Linked DNA regions of Homo sapiens: region 2 is linked to region 1. Evidence: fine-mapped expression QTL. A gene starts in region 1. The other region holds a variant in brackets. All regions are shown on one strand. Distances are between the middles of the regions. Region 1 holds the start of FNTA (farnesyltransferase, CAAX box, subunit alpha). Region 2 has its middle 20 kb from the start of THAP1.

Evidence for each region. PIP is the estimated chance that this variant, and not a neighbour inherited with it, causes the effect.
Region 2: its variant is the best candidate, but not a certain one, in a credible set for the expression of FNTA in whole blood (TOPMed, PIP 0.60).

Annotation. Positions count from the first base shown.
Region 1 is chr8:43,052,424-43,061,833 of GRCh38, forward strand. It overlaps FNTA (farnesyltransferase, CAAX box, subunit alpha), which reads left to right and starts at 3,900. Exons shown (of 9, transcript NM_002027.3): 1 at 3,900-4,123; 2 at 6,669-6,754. The coding sequence starts at 3,924. RefSeq lists an enhancer at 3,529-3,718 and a silencer at 3,849-4,418.
Region 2 is chr8:42,818,622-42,828,031 of GRCh38, forward strand. No RefSeq gene overlaps it. Among named protein-coding and RNA genes, the nearest start is that of THAP1, 20 kb to the right of the region's middle. The variant A/G (reference allele first, on the strand shown) is at 5,680.

The sequences.
Region 1 (9,410 bases):
TGTCATAACCGAATTGTAGTTTACCCATCTGGTGTCAGTAGGGTTGGATGATTGCTTAATGTGAAGGAAAACCTCACATATTTGGTGTCAGAAGTGTTGTGAGTAGAGGAAACAAGTGTTTTTCTTTTTTTTGAGATAGAGTCTCGCTCTGTCGCCCAGGTTGGAGTGCAGTGGCATGATCTCGGCTCACTGCAACCTCCTCCATCTCCTGGGTTCAAGCAGTTCTCCTACCTCAGCCTCCCAAGAAGCTGGGATTACAGGTGCCTGCCACCATGCCCAGCTAATTTTTGCATTTTTAGTAGACACGGGGTGTCACCATGTTGGCCAGGCTGGTCTCAAACTCCTGACCTCAGGTGATCCGCCTGCCTTGGCCTCCCAGAGTGCTGGGATTACAGGTGTGAGCCACCGCACCTGGCCGTCTTTTTCTTTTTTTATATTTTTTTGAGACAGGCTCTCACTCTGTTGCCCAGGCTGGAGTGCAGTGGTGTGATCATGGCTCATTGTAGCCTTGACTTCCTGAGCTCAAGTGATCCTCCCACCTCAGCTTCCTGAGTACCTGGGATTACAGGCACATGTCACCACGTCCAACTAATTTTTGTATTTTTTTAGAGTTGGGGTCTGGCTATGTTGCCCAGGCTAGTCTCAAACTCCTGGCCTCATGTGATCCTCCTGCTTTGTCCTCCTAAAGTGCTGTAATTACAGATGTGAGCCACTGTGCCCAGCCATGATTTTCTTTTAACCACACTTATTAGTGTATGACCTTTAGTTCATATGTTTCATTTTTGCATAGTATTCCATTATATGACTATACCACATTGTACTCTTGATGAGCATGTTGGTTGTTTCTGGTCTGTGGCTATTACAATGTGTTTCCAGTACTGTTGTTCTGTGTTCTGATGCATGTGAGTGCATCATTTAAAAAAAAAAAATATATATATATATATATATATACATCTGGCCAGGCACGGTCGCTCACGTCTGTAATCCCAGCACTTTGGGAGGCCGAGGCAGCTGGATCATGAGGTCAGGAGTTCGAGACCAGTCTGGCCAACATAGTGAAACCCCATCTCTACTAAAAATACAAAAAATTAACCAGGTGTGGTGGTGTGTGCCTGTAATCCCAGCTACTCGGGAGGCTGAGGGCTGAGGCAGAAGAATCGCGTGAACCTGGGAAGCAGAGGTTGCAGTGAGCCGAGACCATGCCATTGCACTCCAGCCCGGGGAACAGTGTGAGACTCTGTCTCAAAAAAAAAAAAAAAAAAAAAAATATATATATATATATATATATATATGTATCTTAGCATTACTGGGTGTCTTAGTCGTTTTGTGTTACCATAATAGAATACCTGAGGCTGGTAATTTATAAAGAAAAGAGGTTTATTTGACTAATGATTCTGGAGGCCAAAAGGTTCAAGACTGGGTAGCTTTATCTAGTGAGGGCCTCAGGCTGCTTCAACTCATGGGGGGAAAGTGGAAGGGGAGTAGTATGTGCAAGGAGATCACATAGCAAGAGGGGAAGCAAGAGAGAGAAACCAAGGAAGACAGCTAATCTATTCTGCAAGAGCAAGAACCCACTTATCCTTGAGGTAGGGCATTCATCTATTCATGAGGAATGACCCAAACAGCTCCCACTAGGCCCTGCCTCTCAACCCTGAATGAGTTTTGGTAGGGACAAAACACATCCAAACTATAGCACTGGGTGATAACAATGTGTATCTTTAGCTTTCCTACATAATGCCAACCTATTTTCCAAAGCCACTTGGAATTGTTAAGCTTTTCCATTTTTGCCAACGTAGTGGATGTGTATGGTATATAAAGATATTTCTAATTTGCATTTTCTTGATTACTAATGAGATTGATCATCTCTTCATGCATTTATTTGCCATTTTGGGTTTTCTGTTTTGTGCAGAATCTTAAGCTTTTATGTTTTGCCTTTCACATTGAAGTCTATGTAGTATAACGTAGGGATGCAATTTCTTTTCCTCTGTGGGTGCCCAATTGACCCAGCACCATTGTTCAGAACACCGTCCTTTTCTCAATCTTCTGCAATGAAGCCTTTGTCTAGTCTCAAGCATCCACATATGCATGGATCTGTTTGTGAGTTCTCTACTGTGTCCCATTATTTGATGTAGCTATTTCTGCCCTAATACTATACCCTATTTGAACAAAAAGAGGATGATTTAATGCTAATATATGGAGTGGAGAAATTCAACAAGGCCTGTCTGTTCAGGTTTCCTTGGCCTCACTGTTCCTCCCTGCAACACCCAGTGGAAGAGGAGCCCTCTGGAACTAGGGTTTAGTTTCTTTACAGCCAGCTGTCACATAGAAAGGCAGGGCTGGAGGAAGGTTAGAGTAGTATTTTCAGGTGCCACGGCTGGCTTTGGGGGAAAAGGGTTCTGGTTTCTATGACCTGCCAGGGGGAAGAGAGATTCTAGTTGCTGTGGCTTGCTTCAGAGAGGATGAGTGGCCACAGAGAGGAGGGCAGGAGAAGGTCAGAGAGAGACTGTGATTGTGAAGCTGATGCTTAGACCTTCATTTGGGATATTCTTTTCTGAGCCCCAACAACATACATTCATATGACCCATTGTTAATGAAAAGAGTCAAACTCTGGAAAATATTTGAAGAGATTTATTCTGAGCCAAATATGAGTGATTAATGGCCTGTGACACAGCCCTTAAGAGATCCTGAGAACATGTGCCCAGGGTGGTTGGGGCACAGTGGGGTTTTATACATTTTCGGGAGGCATAAGACATCAATCAAATACATGTAAGATACACATTGGTTCCTTTGGAAGGACAAGACAACTCAAAGTGTAGGGAGAGGGGTGCTTCCGGGTCCTAGGCCGATTTAAATATGTTCTGATTAGCAATTGGTTAAGTTGTTATCAATAGAATGTCCAGGTTGTGATAAGGGGTTGTGGAGACCAAAGTTTTATTATGCAGATGAAGCCTCCAAGTAACAGGCTTCAGAAAGAATAGATTGTAAATGTTTCTCATCAGACTTAAGGTCGGCCTTGATGTTAATGACCCACCCTCACCCCCACCTCCTTCCATCATGGCCTGAACAAGTTTTTCAGGTTAACTTTGGAAAGCCCTTGGCAGAGAGGAAGGGTCTATTCAGATGGTTTGGTGTTGGGTTCAGAATTTTATTTTTTGGTTTACACCATTATATCCGATCATATATAAATACAAACAAAAACTTCACCAAATATTACTTTCTTTTTCTAATGGTGTGTGTGTTTTGGGACAGGATCTCTGTCCCTCAGACTGGAGTGCAGTGGTGATTTCTGCTCACTGCAGCCTCAAACTCCCAGCTCAAGCGATCCTCCCACTTCAGCCTTCCGAGTAGCTGGAACCACAGGCACCCACATGATGCCCAGCTAATTTTTGTATTTTTGGTAGAGATGGGGTCGCATTAGATTGCCCAGGCTGGTCTCGACCTCCCTGGCTCACATGATCCTCCCGCCGCGGCCTCCGAGCGGCTGGGATCAGGCGTTAATCACCGCGCCCGGGCTTTATATTTCGTTTTGAAAATGCTGAGATGGACGCAAAGGGCTGAGTGCTCAGTGTCCCCCAGTCACCCTCAGTTGCAGCTTCCGTCCAAAGAAGGAATCGCCCTCTCCCTGCTGGGGCCACTAACAGCACTAACACGGTCCGAATGGCATCGGCAAAGCTCGGGAACGGCGACAGATGGGAAGACGCGTGGGAGCCTGGGGGATCTCGGGAGAGCCGCGCAAACTCGCGGCGGACGCAGCCAGCACCCGCAGCCAGCACCCGCACACTCCCACCCATACCCCGGCAGCCCGCCAAGACTCTCTGGCCCGCACCTCTATGGTAGGAAACCCAGAAAACAGGAAGTGGCCTCGAGAGGGGGAAGGGAGGGGCGGGGCCTCCGCCACCACCTCAGCTGCGGACCGAGGCGAGATGGCGGCCACCGAGGGGGTCGGGGAGGCTGCGCAAGGGGGCGAGCCCGGGCAGCCGGCGCAACCCCCGCCCCAGCCGCACCCACCGCCGCCCCAGCAGCAGCACAAGGAAGAGATGGCGGCCGAGGCTGGGGAAGCCGTGGCGTCCCCCATGGACGACGGGTTTGTGAGCCTGGACTCGCCCTCCTATGTCCTGTACAGGTAACGCCCCCGCGGCGGCCGCGGCTCGGGACACTCCCTGGAGGCCCAGCGGCCCCAAGACCCGCGGCGCGCGCTTCCGGCCCCGGCGCGCCAGGCCGAAGTTCCCGTGGCGCCGCGTGGGCCGGTGCATGGCGCTGGGCCCGGGCGGCTGCCGGGACGTCGCCGCTTCCCAGGGCGGCGCCGGCGCGAGACCGCGGGGACGCGAAGCAGCGAGGTCTCGGCTTTCCGCCTGCTTTAAGCCACGCGGAAACTGCTGCACCCTTGACTGCACTCGTTCAGCTGTTCAGGCGTCGCGATTCGTAAATATAAGAAATTTCCCGCTCTCTTCCACGGCTTCCCAGAACGCTGTGTCGCTAACAACCAGTGAAGACCCAAGGGCTAGGGTGCAGTTCTGGTAGCCGGGCAGGAAACCAGGGCCAGATTTGCTCACCCTAAAAACGAAGTGTGAGGGCTTCCAGTGGCTGGCTCTGCTTGGAGCCCAGAGACATTTTCATCCAATCTGTATTTTAGCGCCTCGTATCAGCCAGGCTAAAGGCTGAAAAGAGATTTGCTACTGAACCTCTCTTAAGTCTCCCTGCATCGCCTCGTACATAATACAAGTGAGGTGTACTGGGGACTGCGGTAACTTTCTTGCCTCTGTCACCCCGTCTTTGCTGACACCCAGTTCCATCAGTTCTTTGCTTTCAGATGGTAATGTTGATTCCTAATTCCCTGTGAACCTGCAGAGATAATCGCCTTAGGTCTTACTTCTGTAGTTCTAGGTAAATCCATTCGATGGCTTGTTTACCTTGATTTTGTGAATGAGTAGAAGTCACTACCCATATATATTTTTTTGATTGGAGATAGTGTTTTACTGATTTAAATTGGTAGCCCCATAATCCTCAAGTCTGCTCTCTGGATTGTGAAATACTCAGGTTCTCACGTGACTGTGGGTGATTTCCTGGTGACTAAATACAGCCTTACCTTTCCCAGGCCACTCCCCCAGGCTCTAGGTGTCACGTCTTAGGTCATGATTTCACTTGTATTTCTCCCTGTATAATGGACACAATTACTAGCATTGCGCATTGGATGCCACAGAATCTCTGCTGTCAACAGCTGATCATTATAGAGAAATAAAAAGTGAAAGGAAGGGCCGGCGCGGTGGCTCACGCCTGTAATCCCAGCACTTTGGGAGGCCGAGGCGGGCGGATCACCTGAGGTCAGGAGTTCCAGACTAACCTGGCCAACATGGTGAAACCCTGTCTCTACTAAAAATACAAAAATTAGCCGGGCGTGGTGGCGGGCACCTGTAATTCCAGCTACTCGGGAGGCTGAGGCAGGAGAATCGCTTTAACCCAGGAGGCAGAGGTTGCAATGAGCGGAGATTGCGCCCATTGCACCACAGCCTGGACAAGAGCGTGACTCCATCTCAAAAAAAAAAAAAAAAAGTGAAAGGAAAAGAATATAAGTGAAAGTGTTTAAGAGAAATTTTGTTACACTGGGTAGGTAGTTCACAGAAATTTCTGTAAGCACTCACTGTTGTCACTATACAGTTATTTTAGCATTGCTTATTAAGTAGTCATTGAATGCCGCCTGTGTGCTGTGGATGTTTTAAGTGCTTATCTCATTTAATCCTCCAAATACCCTTCTAAGGTTGGTAGGTAATAATACTGCCCTGATTTTATAAATGGTGAAACTGAGGCCCCAATAAGTAACTTTCTGAAGGTCACACAGCTATTAAGTGCTCCAGCCAATGTTACGACTTAGGCAGTTGTCAGATTCCAGAGCCTGTCTTATTAATGATCACCTGCGCCACCTCTTGAGTAAATTAATAGTACTTATTTTTATCTTAAAATGTCAATTCCTAGTATTTTGTTACTCAAACGTTTTAAAAATGCTGACTGACTCAAAGAATCTTACTAGACCAATGAGTTAGATTGATTTCTAAGTTAAAAATACTGTGAGGCAGGGAGCGGTGGCTCACACCTGTAATGCCAGCACTTTGGGAGGCCGAGGCGGGCGGATCACCAGGTCAAGAGATTGAGACCATCCTGGCCAACATGGTGAAACCCCATCTCTACTAAAAATACAAAAATTAGCTGGGCTTGGTGGCGCCCGCCTGTAGTCCTTAGTCCCAGCTACTCGGGAGGCTGAGGCAGAAGAATTGGTTGAACCCAGGAGGCAGAGGTTGCAGTGAGCCGAGATGACACCACTGCACTCCAGCCTGGGCGACAGAGTGAGATTCCGTCTCAAAAAAATAAAATAAAAAAAAGTACTGTCTACTTGCTGCAAAAACTTATTTTTCTACTTATAAAACTTTAAATTTGAAAACTGTTGATTAGCTTTTCAGCATCTGAGGGTTATTTGTTTTAATTTTACTTTAATAGTTTAATGTGTAAAACATATTGGCAAAACTTGGTCATGAAGAATCCAACCATGATTACATTATGAGCCCTGTAAGTTATTAATATCAATGTAACTGTAATTATTGTCATTTTAAAAACACTAGAGTCCCTTTTCTTCTGTATTTGAATGTAACCACTGGTTGGGGAATGTCTGTTTTCAGGGACAGAGCAGAATGGGCTGATATAGATCCGGTGCCGCAGAATGATGGCCCCAATCCCGTGGTCCAGATCATTTATAGTGACAAATGTAAGTTTGTTTATATTAGGAAAAGGTCTGTAAGTTAAATATAGTAGCAGAATTGGAATTCACAACTATGTAGCAAGATAGATGACAAATTTCTGTCTAATAAAAATCTGAATGACTTAAGATGAGTTAATTTTGTGTTTTTTTTATGTGTGTGTGTGATTTAGCTTTATGATTAAAAGTTTTATTTTGCCCAAAGACTGGACATATTCTAAATAATAAACGTTACAGTATAGTAGATAATAGCTACTATGTGATTGTGGTTTTCTTTTCTTTGCTGGAGACTCCACCGCCAGGGAGATTATGCATGTACCACACAATATAAATGAGTTACTGTTTTTAGAATAAACTTTGGTTGCTGAAACATCAGGATTTAAACATATATTTTGGCAGTGAAGTGTTCAGCTCAGTTGGAATACATTTATTGATATTAAAATGAGTGGATTTTTTTCTTTGACAAAATATTCTTTTGTAATGAATGTGAAAGTGTAAATTGAAGGTCGTGGAAATGTTAATTGTTAGTTCTTCTAGGAAAGGGAAAATGAATAAAATGGAATGATAGTTTTGTAATTTTATGTATATATATTTCTTTCAGTTAAGGCTTTTCTAAGATCATTCTTTTACAAAAGCATTTTTTTTCTGCTAATAAAATGACAATAAATGTTTAAAAAAGCATAATGATAGGTTTGCCGTATTAAGTGTGCAGATATATTACTAAACTTAATGATTAAGTGGAAGTAGCACAGAAGTAGATTTGTAAAGACTCGAGAAATAGATCCTCACTCTATGAAAGCTTAATATGTGATAAAAAGGACATTTTATACCTTTATGAAAAGGGTGGATTAATCAAATAATGGTTGGAACAGTTGGCTGTGCACTTAGATAAAAGCAGAGTTGTATCCCTATCATTCTTAGGATGGAGAACGTATTAGGCAAGATGTAAACCTCAGAATCGATTAAGGAGAAGGTCAGAATATATAACTGCACGGAAATGCAAAACTCTCATACTTTGAGAGATAGTATATATGAAGAGACAATTCACAAAATAGAAATATCTATGAAGAGATATTAACCTTACTAGTGATCAGAGAAATATAAACCATAACTTATTCAGATTCATAAGTACTTATAACAGAGATGTTGGGGGAAACTAATATAATCATATGTTTCCATTGAGGATAAATTAACCTTTTTGCAAGGTATAAAATTAACATTTTGGGCCAGGCGCGGTGGCTCACGCCTGTAATCCCAGTACTTTGGGAGGCTGAGGTGGGCAGATCACCTAAGGTTAGGAGTTTGAGACTAGCCTGGCCAACGTGGCGAAACCCTGTCTCTACTAAAAATACAAAAATTAGCTGGGCGTGGTGGCAGGCGCCTGTAATCCCAGCTACTCAGGAGGCTGAGGCAGGAGAATTGCTTGAACCTGAGAGGTGGAGGTTGCAGTGAGCCACGATCACGCCATTGCACTGTAGTCTGGACGACAAGAGCAAAACTCTGTCTCAAAAAAAAAAAAAAAAAATTAACTTTGTGAATTCTTACATACACCATGGTTAGAAACCCTAAAGGAAAAGATAAGTTTGACCTGTCAACCGTTTATAGACAAATATATCAATTTAAAACTTACACAGCAGAAGAAACCATGAGCAAGTTAAAAAGCAAGCAGCAGTGTGGAAGAAGGTATGTCATTTAAACAGGATCCATATTAAAACTGAGACGTTTTTACAACAGGATAAGGAGACAGAGAGTTTAATCAAAAAATGGACAAAGGGTATGAACTGGCAATTCACAGAAAAGAAAATCCCATTGGCCAATAAAATAGGAAGAATCCTTTATCATTAAGAATGACAGGTTAAAATGAGAATTCCATTTTCCACCCATGATTTAAGTGGCAGAAATGAAAACTGTCTTGATATTATATTAGGTATTAAGATATATGAAGAGCTCCATACATTTCATATGGGATTTTTCGAATGTTTAGCCATTTTGGAAAGTAGTTTGGTATATCTGTTAAAACTGGAAAATGCACTTATCTTACAACCTAGCAGTGTGTTGCTTCTAATTTAATATTGGGTTCATTCTGGCACATGGCATGAGAAGATATGCACAGGAGGTTAAAAGCACAGACTTTGGAGCCAGACCATCTGGTTCAAATTCTAACTTCACATTTTACTGACTGTGTAATCTTGGACAAGTTATTTAACTCCTATGTGCCTCTGTTTCCACCTGTGTAAAATGAGGATCTTGGTAGTAACTATAGATGTAGTAAATTATTTACATAAAATAGTAGAATACTGTCTGGCTCATAGTAAGCACTATATATGTTAGCTACTATAATTTGCAGCATTTTTTGAAAAAGCAAGATATTGGAAGCTATATGTCTATCTTTTGGAGAAATGGATAAAATAAAATGTATCATTGTCATACAGTTAATACTATATAACCGTTAAGAGGATTTAGATCTATTATAACATGAACAGATCTCAGAAACAATGTTGAGTTAAAAAAGTCAAAGTTTGAGAATCTTCGAGCATGACAATATGTTGTTTATAATTTTTTTTTTTTGAGATGGAGTTTCGCTCTTGTTGCCCAGGCTGGAGTGCAATGGCATGATCTTGGCTCACCGCGACCTCCGCCTCCCGGGTTCAAGTGATTCTCCTGC
Region 2 (9,410 bases), 230 kb before region 1:
TTTTATTTTATTTTATTTTTTGAGACGGGGTCTTACTCTGTCACCCAGGCTGGAGTGCAGTGGCACCATCATAGCTCGCTGCAGTCTTGACCTCCCGGGCTCAGGTGATCCTTCCACCTCAGCCTCCCAAGTAGCTGGGACCACAGGCCTGAGCCACCTCACCCAGCCTTGTTTTGTTTTATTTTATTTTGCTGTATTTTGTTTTATTTAGTCATACCTTTATTTATCTTTAATTAATTTTTTTTTGAGACAGAGTCTCACTCTGTTGCTCAGGCTGGGGTGCAGTGGCGCAAACTTGGTTCACTGCAACCTCCGCCTCCCGGGTTCAAGCAATTCTCCTGCCTCAGCCTCCTGAGTAGCTGGCACTACAGGCATGTGCCACCATGCCCGGCAAAGATTTTTTTATATTTTTAGTGGAGACAGGTTTCACTGTGTTAGCCAGGATGGCCTCGATCTCCTGACCTCGTGATCCACCTGCCTCAGCCTCCCATAGTGCTGGGATTACAGGCATGAGCCACCGCGCCTGGCTGGTGATGTTTTGGTACACAGAATCTTTAGTGATCAGATCAGGGTAATTAGCATATCCTTCATCTCAAACCTTTATCACATCTTTGTATTGGGAAGTTTCAATACCCTCCTTCTGTTTATTTGAAACTATATAATTTATTTTTATTATATATATAAAATATTTATTTTGATTATATATATATATAAAGTGACTGATTCTTTCAAGACAAGCCCCGCCCCCGCTCCCCCCTCCCCCGCTTACCCACCACCTTGTTTTAGCATAAACAGCTTTCCTCTCAAGCCAGGAATTCCTTCCACAATGTCGCAAACCAATGATCATGTAAGATTTTCTTTATTATGCCCAGGGATGGCAAACTCATTACTTCACAACGCGATCCATGACACTCTTGGACAAGTCTAATTATTTAAATATTTCTCCTTATAAAGGGCCAAAGTCTGCCTTCAGCTTTTCTTTCTTTCTTTTTTTTTTTTTTTTTTTTGGAGACAGAGTCTCGCTCTGTCCCCCAGGCTGGAGTGCAGTGGCTGATCTCGGCTCACTGCAAGCTCCGCCTCCCAGGTTCGCGCCATTGTCCTGCCAGCCTCCCCAGTAGCTGGGACCACAGGCCCCCGCCACCGCGCCCGGCTTTTTTGTATTTTTAGTAGAGACAGGGTTTCACCATGTTAGCCAGGATGGTCTTGATCTCCTTGCCTCCTGATCCGCCCGCTTTGGCCTCCCAAAGGGCTGGGATTACAGGCATAAGCCACCGCGCTCTGCCTGCCCTCAGCTTTTCTTTTTGAGGCTGGTTTATTTCACTTAGCGTAACGTTCTCAAGGTTCGTCTGTGTTGCAGCATTTGTCAGAATTTCCTTCTTTTTAAGGCTGAATAATCCATTCATCTGTTGATGAACACTTGGGTTGCTTCTGCCTTTTGATTATTGTGAATACTGCTGCTATGAACATGGGTGTATAAATATATCTTTGAGTCTCAGTCTTTTTTGTTTGTTTGTTTTTGTTTGTTTTTAAGACAGAGTTTCACTCTTGTTGCCCAGGCTGTAGTGCAATGGCTCAATCTCAGCTCACTGCAACCTCTGCCTCCCTGGTTCAAGCAATTCTCCTACCTCAGCCTCCCTAGTAGCTGGGATTACTGGCACGCACCACCACACCTGGCTAATTTTGTAATTTTTTTTTTTTAGTAGAGATGGGGTTTCGCCATGTTAGTCAGGCTGGTCTCAAACTCCTGACCTCAGGTGATCCACCCACTTCTGCCTCCCAAAGTGTTGGGATTACAGGCCTGAGCCACTGCGCCTGGCCGAGTCTGTTTTTTATTCTTTTCTGTACTCAGAAGGGAACTTGCTGGATTCTATCAAAGGGTAATTCTGTGTTTAATGTTCTGAGGCACTGCCCTATTGTTTTCTACAGCAGTGCACGGGGGCTCCAATTTCTCTACATCCTTGCCAACATGTATTATTTTCTATTTTTTGATAGCAGGCATCCTAATGGGTGAGAGGTGGTGTTTCATTGTGGTTTTGGTTTGTGTTTCCCTTATGATTAGTGATATTGAGCATCTTTTCATTTGCTTATTGGCCATTTGTTTATCCTCTTTGAAGAAATGTCTACTCAAGTCCTTTGCCCATTTGTTAATCAGCTTGTTTCAGACTAACATGTTTTAATTAAGAAGCTGAAACATGAAGTTTAATAGGTAAAAATTTGTACTTGTATTTTTAAATGGAAGGAAAACTGTATTTAAGAAAAAAAAGAGGCCAGGTGCAGTGGCTCACGCCTGTAATCCCAGCACTTTGAGAGGCCGAGGTGGGTAGATCAACTGAGGTCAGAAGTTTGAGACCAGCCTGGCCAACATGGCAAAACACCATCTCTACTAAAAATACAAAAATTAGCTGGGCATGGTAGTGTACGGCTGTAGTCCCACCTACTCGGGAGGCTGAGGCAGGAGAATCGCTTGAACCCAGGAGGTGGAGGTTGCAGTGAGCTGAGATTGCACCATTGCACTCCAGCCTGGGCAACAAGACTGAAATTCCGTCTCAAAAAAAAAAAACCAAAGAAACAAAGAAAGAGTAATAATAGCTTTAAAAAAAAACGGTCGGGTGCAGTGGCTCATGCCTGTAATCCTAGCAGTTTGGGAGGCCGAGGCGGGTGGATTTTCTGAGCTCAGGAGTTTGAGATCAGCCTGGACAATATAGTGAAACCCTGTCTCTAGTAAAAATACAAAAAAATTTAGCCAGGCATGGTGGTGCATGCCTGTAATCCCAGCTACTCGGGAGGCTGAGGCAGGAGAATCGCCTGAACCCGGGAGGCAGAGGTTGCAGTGAGCTGAGATCATGCCATTGCACTCCAGCCTGGGCGACAGAGTGAGACTCTGTTTCAGGAAAACAAAACAAAACAAAAAACCAGGTTGTTGGGGGAGAAGGGGCTGGGAGAAAATAGTGGAGAGAGAGGGTGGGGAAAAGGGGCATGCAGAGGGGCTGGAAAGACAGCCTTGGGGAGAAGAATGAAAAGGAGATGGTGGGGAGAAGAGGATGGGAAGACAGTGGGGAGAAGCAGGTGACAGGGTGGGGAGTAGCAAAAAAAAAAAAAAGATGATGTAGGCCAGGCACGGTGGATCACACCTGTAATCCCAGCACTTTGGGAGGCCGAGGCGGGCGGATCACGAGGTCAGGAGATCGAGAGCATCCTGGCTAACATGGTGAAACCCTGTCTCTACTTAAAATACAAAAAATTAGCCTGCTATGGTGTCAGGTGCCTGTAGTCCCAGCTACTCAGGAAGCTGAGGCAGGAGAATGGCATGAACCCGGGAGGTGGAACTTGCAGTGAGCTGAGATCGCGCCACCGCACTCCAGCCTGGGCGACAGAGCGAGACTCCATCTCAAAAAAAAAAAAAAAAAGATGATGTATATATTAAAATTTGAATTTGTCATCCATGTGTTTTAGCCTCTAGAACATCTTTGTGAATGAGGAATTTTTTTTGACATTGACATTTTCTAGACATGATCTAAAAATGTAGACTAAGTTTTCAGTGCATTGAAGATGGGGAAGGGCAATTCTTTGCCCCAGGTTTTGTGTGTGTCCATTTATGAATGAACTAAACTCATGTTTTTTCATAGCTGTGAGCCTATTCTGCAAAGAATTAGAAGCAAGTTCAAGGGTGTACAGCTTGCAGCTCAACCTTGGAAAACTTCCCTGAGGAGTTAGTACAGAACAGAAAATCCAGTTCTCTGTCCCCAGATGCATAATTCATCTGCCAGCAGAGCAGCTTTTAGATGAAAGGGCCCCAACAGAAGTTTTGGTAGAAAATGACACCAAGAAATGGTGAGTGTTTGGAGATCAGGCTCTTAAATGTTACTCAACTTTGCACAAATATTTGTAAACTTTCCACATGTCCTGAAATTTGTGCAAATAAGTTCACAAAGTCATTTCCAAATTGCTTCTAGTATTTAAAATACTTCCTCAGGGAAAGCTGGAATTCGGCATATTAGAAATGTGTAACCATTTCTTATTCTTAAGAGTCTGAAACCCTAGTTAAGCCCTGGTTTTCCAGATTGTTTGCTTTTATAAAGAATGCTGCCATATATGATAAGCATGGTTTTCTTCACCATATATATCTAGCACAAGGTGTCCAATCTTTTGGCTTCCCTGGGGCACATTGGAAGAAGAATTGTATTGGGCCACAAATAAAATACACTAACACTAATGATAGCTGATAAGCTTTAAAAAAAAGTTTTAAGAAAGTTTATGGGCCAGACACAGTGGCTCATGCCTGTAATCCCAGCATTTTGGGAGGCCATGGTGGGCAGATCTCCTGAGGTCAGGAGTTTGAGACTAGCCTGGCCAACATGGTGAAATCCCTTCTCTACTAAAAATACAAAAATTAGCCGGGCGTCGTGGTGGGTGCCTGTAATCCCAATTACTTGGGAGCTAGTACTTGAATATCACACAGAACCATAAACCGGGTGCACGTCTTCTCCTTCCTTTGTCAAAAGATCATAGGGTACTTCCCTTGAGGCCAAATGCCCAGGCTGGGAGAGAGAAGGCAGTGTAGCAGAAATAGGAACTGGAAATAGGAACCATTGGGGTCACTTCTTCATATAACTTACTTGTGCCTTTAGGACGTGCTTGGGCCCAATCATGTTTATACTACTTCCATTTGATAATGAAGTTCTTCTATGCATGCCCAACTTTATGGTTTAGTGGGTCAGATGACATCCAGTTTATAATAGGCAGCTCAGGTTGCATGGTAACTTGGCGGCCTATGGTCAAACATTCAGTTTCTACTAAAGCCCATTAGCAGGTCAAGAGCTGTCTCTCAAAACGAGAGTATTTATCTGTGGATGATGGCAGGGCCCTGCTCCAAAGTCTTAAAGGCCTGCACTGTGATTCACCTATGGGGTCCTGCCAAAGTCTCCAGACGGCATCCCTATATGGCACAGACACCACACGCACCATTAGATCCACTGGATCATATGGCCCAAGTGGCAAAGCTGGCACAACAGCCAGGACCTGTTGCAGAGCTTTCTCCTATTCTGGATACTACTCAAAACTAGCAGATTTTTGGATCACTCGTGAATGACCCAACATAACACACCCAAATGAGGAATATGTTGCCTCCAAAAATCTAAATAGGCCAACTAGGCATTGTGCCTCATTCTTGGTTGTAGGAAGGATCAGAAGCAACAACTTCATCCTTCACCTTAAAAGGAGTTTGTTCTTCTTTTTTCTGTGTCTTAAGGTTATTGAGATCTTTCTTCTTTTTAAAAATATAGGTGTTTACAGCTACAAATTTCCCTCAAAGCACTGCTTTAGCTGCATACCAGAAGTTTTAGTATTTTGTGTCTTCATTTTTATCTATGGCAAAGTATTTTCTTATTTCTCTTGTGACTTCTTCTTTGACCCATTGGTTGTTTAAACGTGTTTTAAAATTTCCACTTTCTTGTGAGTTTATCTAATTTATCGTTATTGATTTCTCATTTTATTCCATTGTGGTCAGAGAATATACATTATGTCAGCAGCCCCTAACCTTTTGGCACCATGGACCAGTTTCTTGGAAGACAATTTCTCCATGGACTGGGAGTGGGGGATGGTTTCGGGATGAAACTGTTCCACCTCAGATCATCAGGCATTAGGTAGATTCTCATAAAAAGCATGGACCCTAAATCCGTC[A/G]CATGCACAGTTCACAACAGGGTTCATGCCTCTATGAGAATCTAATGTCCCCACTGATCTAACAGGAGGTGGATCTCAGGGAGTAATGCTTGCTCGCTTCACCACTCACCTCCTGCTGTGTGGCTTGGTTCCTAACAGGCCACAGACTGGTATCCATCTGTGGCCCTGGGGTTGGGGACCCCTGAATTATATGATTTAATACTTTAAAACTTAGTGAGATTTGCCGGGAGCGATGGCTCACGCCTGTAATCCCAGCACTTTCGGAGGCTGAGATGGGCGGATCATGAGGTCAGGAGATCCAGACCATCCTGGCTAACACGGTGAAACCCTGTCTCTACTAAAAATATAAAAAATTAGCCGGGCGTTGTGGTGGGCACCTGTAGTCCCAGCTACTTGGGAGGCTGAGGCAGGAGAATGGCGTGAACCCAGGAGGTGGAGCTTGCAGTGAGCTGAGATTGAGCCACTGCACTCCAGCCTGGGCGACAGAGCAAGACTCTGTCTCAAAAAAAAAACAAACTTACTGAGATTTGTTTTATGACCCAGTATGTGGTCTATCCTGGAGAATGCTCCATGTGACTTGAAAAATATATATATTCTCTATGGTTGGGTGCAATATTCTATAGAAGTTGGCTAGATCCATTTTGTTTATAGCACAGTTAAAGTTTTCTCTATCATTATTGATCTCCTGCTTAGTTGTTATATCTAATATTGAAGGTGGAGTACTGATGTCTTCAGCTGTTGTTCAATTTTTGTTGAATTCTCCCTTCATTTCTGTGAGCTTTTGCTTCATGTATTTCAGGGCTCTATTGTTAGTTGCATATGTGCTTATAATTCTTATATCTTCCTGATAGATTGACTCTGGTAACATTACAAAATTCCCTTTATATCGAATAACATTTATTTATTTATTTTATTTGGTTTTGTTTTAAGGCGGAGTCTCAAAATTTAGAACTACCTGTATGAGAAAACATGCTCTTCCACGTTTCTTGCTTGTTTACTCTTTTTTTTTTTTTTGGAGACAAAATCTCACTCTGTTGCCCAGGCTGGAGTGCAGTGGCATGATCTCGTCTCACTGCAACCTCTGCCTCCCGGGTTCAAGCATTTCTTCTGCCTCAGCCTCCCAAGTAGCTGGAACTACAGGCACGTACCATCATGCCCAGCTAATTTTTGTATTTTTAGTAGAGACAGGGTTTCACCATGTTGGCCAGGCTGGCCTTGAACTCCTGACCTCAAGTGATCCACCCACCTCGGCCTCCTAAAGTGCTGGGATTACAGGCGTGAGCCACTGTGCTCGGCCTCTAATAACATTTTTAAAAGCCTATTTTGCCTGATATTGCCATACCCACTTCACATCTGTTTTAGTTGTTGTTTGCATAGTATGTCATTTCCATCCTTTAGCTTTCAACCTATTTTTATCATAAGGCTAAAGTGTGTCTCCTGCAGACAGCATATAATTGGAGCTCGTTTTTCAATATCCAGTCTGACAGTCTCTGCCCTTTGATTAGATCAGTTCACATTAGATGCTATTATTGGTATAGCTGGATTTACATCTGCCATTTTGCCTTTTAGTCTCATGTCTTATTTCTCTAGTCTTCCTTCACTGCTTTCTTTTACATTAAGTAAACATTTCTAGTTTAATATTTTAATTATTTTAATGATTTTCTTCACTACACTTTGGACTTATTTTCTAAGTGGTTGCTATAGGGCTTACCATATATATCTTATTATAATCTACTTCAACTTACCAGTGTGATATTTTGCTGTATATAGTTCCACTACCTCTTCTCCCATTTTGTACTATTATTAATATACATGTTACATCTACATGTTACAAACCAATAATGCATTTTTATAATTATTGTAATAATTTTATGTCTTCTGAGGAAGCTCAAAAAAAGGGTGAGCAAGTATGTATGTATTTATTTTTTAATTTTTTTTTTTGAGACGGAGTCTAGTCCTGTCACCAAGGCTGGAGTGCAGTGACGCAATCTTGACTCACTGCAACCTCCGCCTCCTGGGTTCAAGTGATTCCCCTGCCTCAGCCTCCAGAGTAGCTGGGACTGCAGGCGCCCACCACCACGCCCGGCTGACTTTTTGTATTTTAGTAGAGACGGGGTTACACCATGTTGGCCAGGCTGGTCTCAAAACTCCTGACCTTGTGATCCACCCGCCTTGGCCTCCCAAAGTGCTGGGATCACGGGCGTGAGCCACCACACCGGGCCACAAGTATGTATTTATAGTTTAATTAATTTTTGATTTATTATTTGTTTCTCCACATTTCTTCCTATAGATTTAAGTTCTCATCTGGTGTTCTTTCTTTATTTCAGTACAGCTTGCTTCTCATCTGCTTCTTACTATCAAACATATTACATTTCTCTATGTTACAGGCCTAACACTAAAATTATATATACAGTTTTTGCAGTTGCTTTTAAATAAGAAAAAAGATGCAGCTATGTGTCTTTCATAATTATTTACATAATTATCTTTTTTTTTTTTTTTTTTTGAGACAGAGTCTCGCTCTGTCGCCCAGGCTGGAGTGCAGTGGTGCAATCTCCGCTCACTGCAAGCTCCGCCTCCCGGGTTCACGCCATTCTTCTGCCTCAGCCTCCCGAGTAGCTGGGACTATAGGCGCCCGCCACCACGCCCGGCTAATTTTTTTGTATTTTTAGTAGAGACGGGGTTTCACCGTGTTAGCCAGGATGGTCTCGATCTTCTGACCTCATGATCCGCCCGCCTCGGCCTCCCAAAGTGGTGGGATTACAGGCGTGAGCCACCCTGCCCAGCCTACATAATTATCTTTACTGGCAATCTTTGCTTTTTTGAATTACTGTTAGGTGTCACTTGCTTTCAGCCTGAAGAGCTTCCTCTAGTATTTATTTTAAGGTGGGTTGGCTAACAACAGATTCTATTTTTCTTTTTCTGAGAATGTTTCTACTTAATCTTCATTTTTGTAGATCAGTCTGTTTCTCCTTTTAATTCTGCCAATTTTTGTATCATATACTTTGGTGGTCTGTTATTAGGTGCAAAAATGTTTACGATTGCTATGTCTTTTGGTGTATTAAACTTTTTAATTAATATATAATACCTGCTTTGTCTCTTGTAACTTTTTTATTTAAAGTCTATTTTATCTTCTGTTAATACAGCCACCCCAGCTCATCTTGATTACTATTTGCATGAAATATCTTTTTCCATCCTTTCACTTTTAACCTGTTTGTGTCTTTGGACCTAACATGAGTCTCCTACAGGTAGCATGTAGTTGGGTCTTGGGTCTTGTTTTTATTTTTGAGACGGAGTTTTACTCTTGTTGCCCAGGCTGGAGTGCAATAGAACAATCTTGGCTCACTGCAACTTCCACCTCCCGGGTTCAAGCAATTCTCCTGCCTCAGCCTCCCTAGTAGCTGGGGTTACAGGCGACTGCCGCCATGCCCGGCTAATTTTTGTATTTTTAGTAGAGATGGGTTTCACCATGTTGGCCAGGCTAGTCTGAAACTCCTGACCTCAGGTGATCTATCCGCCTCAGCCTCCCAAAGTGCTGGGATTACAGGCATGAGCCACCGGGCCCAGCCGGGTCTTGTTCTTTTTTTAAAAAAAATCCATTCTTCTAATCTCTGTCTCTTGATTAGAAAGTTCAATACAATATATTTAAAGTAATTATTGATGAGGAGGGACCTACTTCTGTCATTTTGCTATTTGTTTTATAAATGTCTTATAGCTTTTTTGTCCCTTATTTC